Homo sapiens: one gene and its partner. The protein of the gene in region 1 purifies or fractionates together with the protein of each later gene. This does not show direct contact. Each region holds a gene or a part of one and is shown on either strand. Other genes may lie near its edges.

Region 1 (3,810 bases):
CTGTCTCCTCTCTCAATCCACCACCGCTCTCTGCCCCCGGGCTGACCTGGCTGAGGCCTTGACCTTGGCCTGGCCGGTGAAGACACGGACAAAAACACGCACGTAGAAGTCAGCGCTGATGCTGAGCAGCGGCACCACGAAGCGCTGGTAGCAGTTGGCGCGGAGGTCCAGGCTGTGCAGGACGATTCTCAGGGCCTGGGGGTGGGGGGTGGGTGTCAGCCTCCCCTCCACTATCCACCCACCCCACCAGGAGCCCTATGTGGTACTCACAAGTACAGGCTCAGGGCCAGCTCCCTGGGATCCAAGCCCACCCCTGAAAGTCCTGGCTGTGGGACCCTCAACAAGTGAGTATCCCCTCTCTGTGCCTCAGTTTCTTCATCTGCAAAATCACAACAGTCCCTGTCTGTGGCACTGCTGGGGGCACTAAACGAGTGAGGAAAGCATAGATCCAACCTATTCTGACCAGCATTATCGGTGTGCCATGTGGCATGTACTGAGGACCCACGTTCCAGCCCCCAAGGGCTCTGTGGGCAGGAAGTGGGGATACTAGGTGCTGTAGAACTGCTGGGGCCTGGGCCGGGCGTGGTGGCTCATGCCTGTAATCCCAGCACTTTGGGAGGCTGGTCAGGAGTTTGAGACCAGCCTGGCTAACATGATGAAATCCCCGTCTCTACTAAAAATACAAAAAATTAGCTGGGTGTGGTGGCGGGCGCCTGTAATCCCAGCTACTAGGGAGGCCGAGGCAGGAGAATCACTTGAACCTGGGAGGCGAAGGTTGCAGTTAGCTGAGATCTCACCACTGCACTCCAGCCTGGGCAACAAGAGTGAAACTCCATCTCAAAAAAGAAAAAAAAGCAAAACGGCTAGGGCTTTCCTGCTAGTGTGAGACTCTGATATGGGAAAGGAGACAGCATTTCCCGGGCTGACTTCATGACAGGACCCTTTAGGAACAAGGGCAAGAGCCCTCTGTGGACCACGCTGGAGTGCAGTGGCACTATCAAAGCTCACAATAACTTTGAACTCCTAGGCTCAAGTGATCCTCCTGCCTCAGCCTCCAGAGTAGCTGGGACCACAGGCATCCACCACCACACCTAGGTAATTTTTAGGGTTTTTTTGTAGAGATGGGGTCCTCGCTATGTTGCCCAGGTTCCTGACCTCAAGTGATCCTCCCACCTTGGCCTCCGAAAGTGCTAGGATTACAGGCATGAGCCGCTGCACTTCGCCACTCAGCCTTCTTGAATCCTGATCAGACACTCAATAGGGTCAGACCATTTTTTTTTTTTTTTTTTGAGACAGAGTTTTGCTCTTGTTGCCCAGGCTGGAGTGCAATGGTGCCATCTCGGCTCACCGCAACCTCCACCTCCCGGGTTCAAGTGATTCTCCTGCCTCAGCCTCCCGAATAGCTGGGATTACAAGCACCCACCACCACGCCCAGCTAATTTTTTTTTTTTTTTTTTTGTATTTTTAGTAGAGACGGGGTTTCACCATGTTGGCCAGGGTGCTCTTGAACACCTGACCTCTTGAACACCGCCCACCTCGGCCTCCCAGAGTGCTGGGATTACAGGCGTGAGCCACCGCGCCCGGCCTATTTTTTTTTCTTTTTTTTGAGACAGAGTCTTGCTCTGTCGCCCAGGCTGGAGTGCAGTGGCACAGTCTCAGCTCACTGCAAGCTCCACCTCCTGGGTTCACGCCATTCTCCTGCCTCCGCCTCCCGAACAGCTGGGACTACAGGTGCCCGCTACCATGCCTGGCTAAGTTTTTGTATGTTTAGTGGAGATCAGATTTCACCATGTTAGCCAGGATGGTCTCAATCTCCTGACCTCATGATCCGCCCACCTCGACTTCCCAAAGTGCTGGGATTACAGGCGTGAGCTACCACGCCCGGCCTATTTTTTTTCTTTTTGAGATGGGGTCTCCCTCCCAGGCTGGCGTGCAGCGGAGTGATCTTGGCTCACTGCAACCTCGCCTCCTGGGTTCAAGTGATTCTCCTGCCTCAGCCTCCTGAGTAGCCGGGATTACAGGTATCTGCCACCATGCCTGGCTAATTTTTGTATTTTTAGTAGAGATGGGGTTTTACCATGTTGGCCAGCTGGTCTCAAAGTCCTGACCTCAGGTGATCCACCTGCCTAGGCCTCCCAAAGTGCTGGGATTACAGGTGTGAGCCACTGCGCCCGGCCTTCAGACCATCATTGTGCCCATTTTACAGATGCAAAAAAACCCGAGGACCAGAAAGGTGAAGTCACTTGCCCAGAGCTACCAGCAAAGCTAGGATTTAAACCCAGTCCTGGAAAAACGACCTTTAAAAAAAAAATTTTTTTTTGAAAAGTTGTTTTAATACAGAAAACTAAAATAATGTGGCCATGCACTCCTGTCCTGGCCAAAGCCACTGTCCCCAAATGACCATGATTATCAGCCATGCTCTTAGGAACTATGTGGGTTGAAGACACGCCTGTCGTTAACAGCCTGGGATGCATCTGGCCATCAGCCTGGAGGAAGCTGAGCAGGTCTGAGGAGGGGGAAAGTGTATTGGGAAGGGACTCAGACAACCACCTGTCCCCCGGTCTCCCTGGCTGGCTGGCAGAGGGCCCCTCACCATCTCGTGGCAGGCCCGGCTCTTGAGGGCCATGGCCCCGTACTTGCTGTAGCACGTCTCCCCGCTGTTCCCCGCCAACACCGCCATGTCTGTGCAGGTCACACACAGCAACCCTGCAGAGAGGGGCTGGGCAGTGAGAACCCTCCAACACCCCAAGCCCTGCTCCCACCCCAGTGCCATCCCCACCTCACCTCCTTCACTCACAGCCTGCACAGCTGCATCCAGGAAGGTGGCTGGGCTGCCATAGGGGTCCAGATCGATGACGTCAAACCTCTCCGACACCCTCTGGTGCTGGTACATCAGCATCCTGGGTGCAAAGAGGGCCAGGTCCTCAGCCTCCCACGCCAGGTACCTTCTCTGTCCCCTACACATATTAACTCGTACAGCACAGTGGTTTGGGTCTGAACTCCGGGGCCAGATTCCCAAGTTCAAGTCCTGGCTCAGTCATTTATTTATTTATTTATTTTATTTTTGAGTCGGAGTCTTGCTCTGTCAGCCAGCTGGAGTGCAGTGTTGTGATCTCGGCTCCCTGCAACCTCCGCTTCCCCAGTTCAAGCAATTCTCGCGCCTCAGCCTCCCGAGTAGAGTAGCTGGGACTACAGACATGTGCCACCACGCCCAGCTAATTTTTGTATTTTTAGTAGAGATGGGGTTTCAACATGTTGGCCAGGCTGGTCTCAAACTCCTGACCTCAAGTGATCCATCCACCTCGGCCTCCCAAAGTGCTGAGATTACAAGTGTGAGCCACTGCACTGGCCTTGGTCATTTATTAAACTGCACAATTTTCCTACTTAGGAAAAGCACCATGTGGAACTCAGTCCACACATCTAAAACAACAACAATACTGATATAAGACGTATCTGCCTGACACCATTTCAAGCAGTTTATAGATGTATTAACACATTTTTTTTTTCCTTTCTTTGGAGACAGAGTCTCGCTGTGTCACCCAGGCTGGAGTGCAGTGGTGGGTTCTCGGCGCACTGCAACTTCCACCTCCTGGGTTCAAGCGATTCTCCTGCCTCAGCTTCCCAAGTAGCTGGGATTACAGGCACGTGCCACCATGCCTGGCTAATTTTTATATTTTTAGTAGAGACGAGGTTTTACCATGTTGGCCAGGCTGGTCTCGAGCTCCTGACCTCAAGTGATCCGCCCACCTCGGCCTTCCAAAGTGCTGGGATTACAGGGGTGAGCCACTGCGTCTGACCTCATTTTAAAAT
Region 2 (3,500 bases), on another chromosome or scaffold:
CTACTTAGCAACATTTAGATTAGCTACTGGTGGGGCAGTATCTCTGAAAGGAGAGGGAATCTTATACGATTAGTGCAGCACAGCCATGAGCCAAATGCAGTCTGATCCTTACCTGCCCTGCTCCAAAAGGACAATATCCTTCCACCCCATTTTGGAGAGGTGATAGGCCACAGAAGTGCCCGTGATTCCACCTCCACAGATGACCACCTGTGCCTGGGTGGGCAGGGCCATGGAACGCGCCTCGGCAGCTGACGTGCTGTTTCTTGCAGAGGACCAGTTCTGCCATCCTGGGCTGGCTCTTTGTCTTCCAACAATCGACAGCAACCGGTAGAACATCATGTCTCTCACCAACTAGATCTCAGGAACTCAAACTAGACAGAGAAACCAAACATATTTCATGCCATTCTACTCAGTGCATGGGATTAATGAGAAAGGGATTTGACAAAGAACGATAGCCATTCATTCAGCAAATATTTGAGGGTGGCTGGGCATGGTGCCTCACACCTGTAATCCCAGCACTCTGGGAGGCCAAGGCGGGCGGATCACGAGGTCAGGAGATCGAGACCATCCTGGCTAACACAGTGAAACCCCGTCTCTACTAAAAATTCAAAAACTTAGGCTGGGCGCAGTGGCTCACACCTGTAATCCCAGCACTTTGGGAGGCCGCGGCGAGTGGATAACGAGGTCAGGGGTTCGAGACCAGTCTTACCAACATGGTGAAACCCTGTCTCTACTAAAAACACAAAAATTAGCTGGGCATGGTGGCAGGTGCCTGTAATCCCAGCTACTCAGGAGGCTGAGGCAGGAGAATTGCTTGAACCCGGGAGGCGGAGGCTGCAGCGAGCAGAGATCGCGCCACCGCACTCCAGCCTGGGCGACAGAGCGAGACTCCGTCTCAAAAAAAAAACAAACAAACAAACAAAAAAAAAACAAAAAAAGAAATATTTGAGGGCATTCTGAGTTTCAGATATTCTGCTAGCAGTGAACAAGAATGGGGAAGTCCCTGTCTTTATGAAATTTACATTTGAGAGTTTGCGTGTGTGAATGAGGAGAACACCAATCAATATACAAATAAACATACAAATAAAACAGTAAATAAAGCTAACATGATAGAGTAACTAGGGGCATATTTAAAACAGGATGGTCAGAAACAGCCTCCAAGGAAGTGACATTTGGAAACAGACCTGAAGGATAAGGAACGAGCTATACATTTGGCAGACACTGAGACGAGCATGTGCAAAAGCCCTGAGGTAAGACAGACCAAGAACAAAAAGGAGGCCGGCATGTACACGACACGGGGAGTGTGGGGAGATGATCTAAGACAATGCTGGAGAGGCAGGCGGAAGCCAGTTACACACAGCCCTTGGGTGCCATCAGCAGGAGTTGGAATTTTATTCAAAGTACAAAGGAAAATCACTCATGCGGGAGTATCACTAGCAGGGGAATGAAATGATCTGGGATGTTTTTCTTTTCTTTGTTTTTTTTGGCGGTGGGGGGTTGGGGGATGTTTTCCAAAGGTCAGTCTGGCTCCATGGTGGAGAGCGGATGGTAGAATTATAAGAAAAACAGAGTTGACTTCCTAGGCTCAAGTGATCCTCCCACCTTGGTCTCCCAAAGTGTTGAGATTACAGGCATGAACCACTGCCCTTGGACAAGGCAGGGTTTTAACAAACTTAATCTATCAGCAAAACAGATGACTGTTCAAGTTTCAAGAAACTGAAGAAGAAAGCACCTACTGGCTGTCCATGCAGTCATGTGTACAGGAGGATGAGGACTTTGAGACGAGAGGCGGTAGACAAGGGGGCCTTAGGGTAGCTCACTGCTAGTCATCTCCTTACCGCCTCCACTGCCAGCCACAGGACCCACAGATGCTCCACAGTCAGCACAAATTGTCCAAGGCCAAGGTATCTATGTCCATCCATCAGAGATGACTCTCAGAATTGCAACCAATGCAAGCACAGACTGTGTCCAGGCAGACATCCCATCCAACTGGAGACAAATTGTCTTGGCCACCTTGTGGTTGCCACCATGCCTCTCATCCCTGGTCCCTGTTAAGCACCATCTCAAAACAGAAGCTTCTCTACCCGGCTAGTCTTTCCATAATCTCATCTCCACGTGACCAATTTATTTCCCGTGGCCCAAGCTCTCTTTGCTTTCCTCTCCTTCAAGCCCCTCTACTGCACCCTCCAGAATACCTTTCCCAAAGGTAAACACCCACCCCTTTGCTGACATTCTCTCTACCCTCTGTCCCAATGGCAACACAGCTCTCCTGGGGAACTGCTGCTGCCAAATGGCCAGCCCCGTCCCATTGACCTCACTGTCAACCTCCTGGCTTCTGACCCGTGACCACTCGGTTATACTTGAAAACTGTCCTGCTCCTTGGTGGCTTAGGCTAGCACATGTTAAGCCACAGGCAGACCTCTGTCTGTATTCAGGTTCAGAGCCCAGCTATTCCTCTCTCAACCTTCAATTTCACCTCCTTTCTTCCCTCATTCTAAGCAGATAACCTGGCTCATCTCATTCCCTGAAACCCTTCCTATAGACCCACTTGCATCTGCAACCATCTCTTCCTTCCTTCTTTTATCCACTGGAAAGTTAATCTCCCCCAAGGGCCCTGGATCCCACTTCCTCCTCTCTTCTCTTGACCCTAGCTCCATCAACTGCTATCTCTCTTTCATGTACCTGCAACGTTTCCCTCCCTTTTTGCTGCTTTTCCTCAGCAATTTTTTTTTTTTTTTTGAGACAGAGTCTCACTCTGTCGCCCAGCTGGGAGTGCAGCGGTGTGATCTCGGCTCACTGCAACCTCTGCATCCCAGGTTCAAGCAATTCTCCTGCCTCGGCCTCCTGAACAGCTGGAACTACAAGCACGCGCCACCACGCCCAGTTACTTTTTGTATTTTTAGTACAGACAGGGTTTCACCATGTTGATTAGGCTGGTCTTGAACTCCTGACCTCAGGTGATCCACTGGCCTTGGCCTCCCAAAGTGCTGGGATTATAGGCGTGAACCACCACACCCACCTTAATGACTTTCTGATGCCCTCAGGAAAAAGGCAAAACTCTTTTCATATCAAGTGCAAGATCCTTCACACTCTGGTTCTTATCTGTGGTCTCATTTCTCCTTTCCTCACACTCTGACCAAACCAGACTGAACAACCTGTAATTCGTCAAACATATCAGGTGAGGCGTGAGTGTTCTATTCGGCTCCAGGTTCTGTGCATGCTGTTCCCTCCTGGCATGGTTCCTGCCACCTCTCCCCCAAATACAGGTAATCTCCTCAGGTCACAGCCTCTTTGACATCTTATTTATTTTTTTTGAGATGGAGTCTCGCTCTGTCGCCCAGGCTGGAGTGCAGTGGTGCGATCTCAGCTCACTGCAAGCTCTGCCTCCTGGGTTGATGCCATTCTCCTGCCTCAGCCTCCTGAGTAGCTGGGACTACAGGCACCCACCACCATGCCTGGCTAATTTTTTTTTTTAATTTTTAGGAGAGACGGGGTTTCAC

Evidence for each region.
Region 2: the proteins of TRMT1 (region 1) and PDPR purify together in Homo sapiens (co-immunoprecipitation; 2 studies listed by BioGRID and IntAct, with this or other methods). This does not show direct contact.

What each region holds. Positions count from the first base shown.
Region 1 is NC_000019.10:13,110,112-13,113,921, forward strand, and holds part of TRMT1 (tRNA (guanine(26)-N(2))-dimethyltransferase), read right to left. Parts: intron 2,901-3,810; coding exon 2,785-2,900; intron 2,707-2,784; coding exon 2,594-2,706; intron 196-2,593; coding exon 47-195; intron 1-46. UniProt on the Homo sapiens protein: Dimethylates a single guanine residue at position 26 of most nuclear- and mitochondrial-encoded tRNAs using S-adenosyl-L-methionine as donor of the methyl groups. tRNA guanine(26)-dimethylation is required for redox homeostasis and ensure proper cellular proliferation and oxidative stress survival.
Region 2 is NC_000016.10:70,117,332-70,120,831, reverse strand, and holds part of PDPR (pyruvate dehydrogenase phosphatase regulatory subunit, mitochondrial isoform 1 precursor), read right to left. Parts: intron 3,346-3,500; exon of another isoform or gene 1,737-3,345; intron 372-1,736; 5' UTR 340-371; coding exon 113-339; intron 1-112. UniProt on the Homo sapiens protein: Decreases the sensitivity of PDP1 to magnesium ions, and this inhibition is reversed by the polyamine spermine.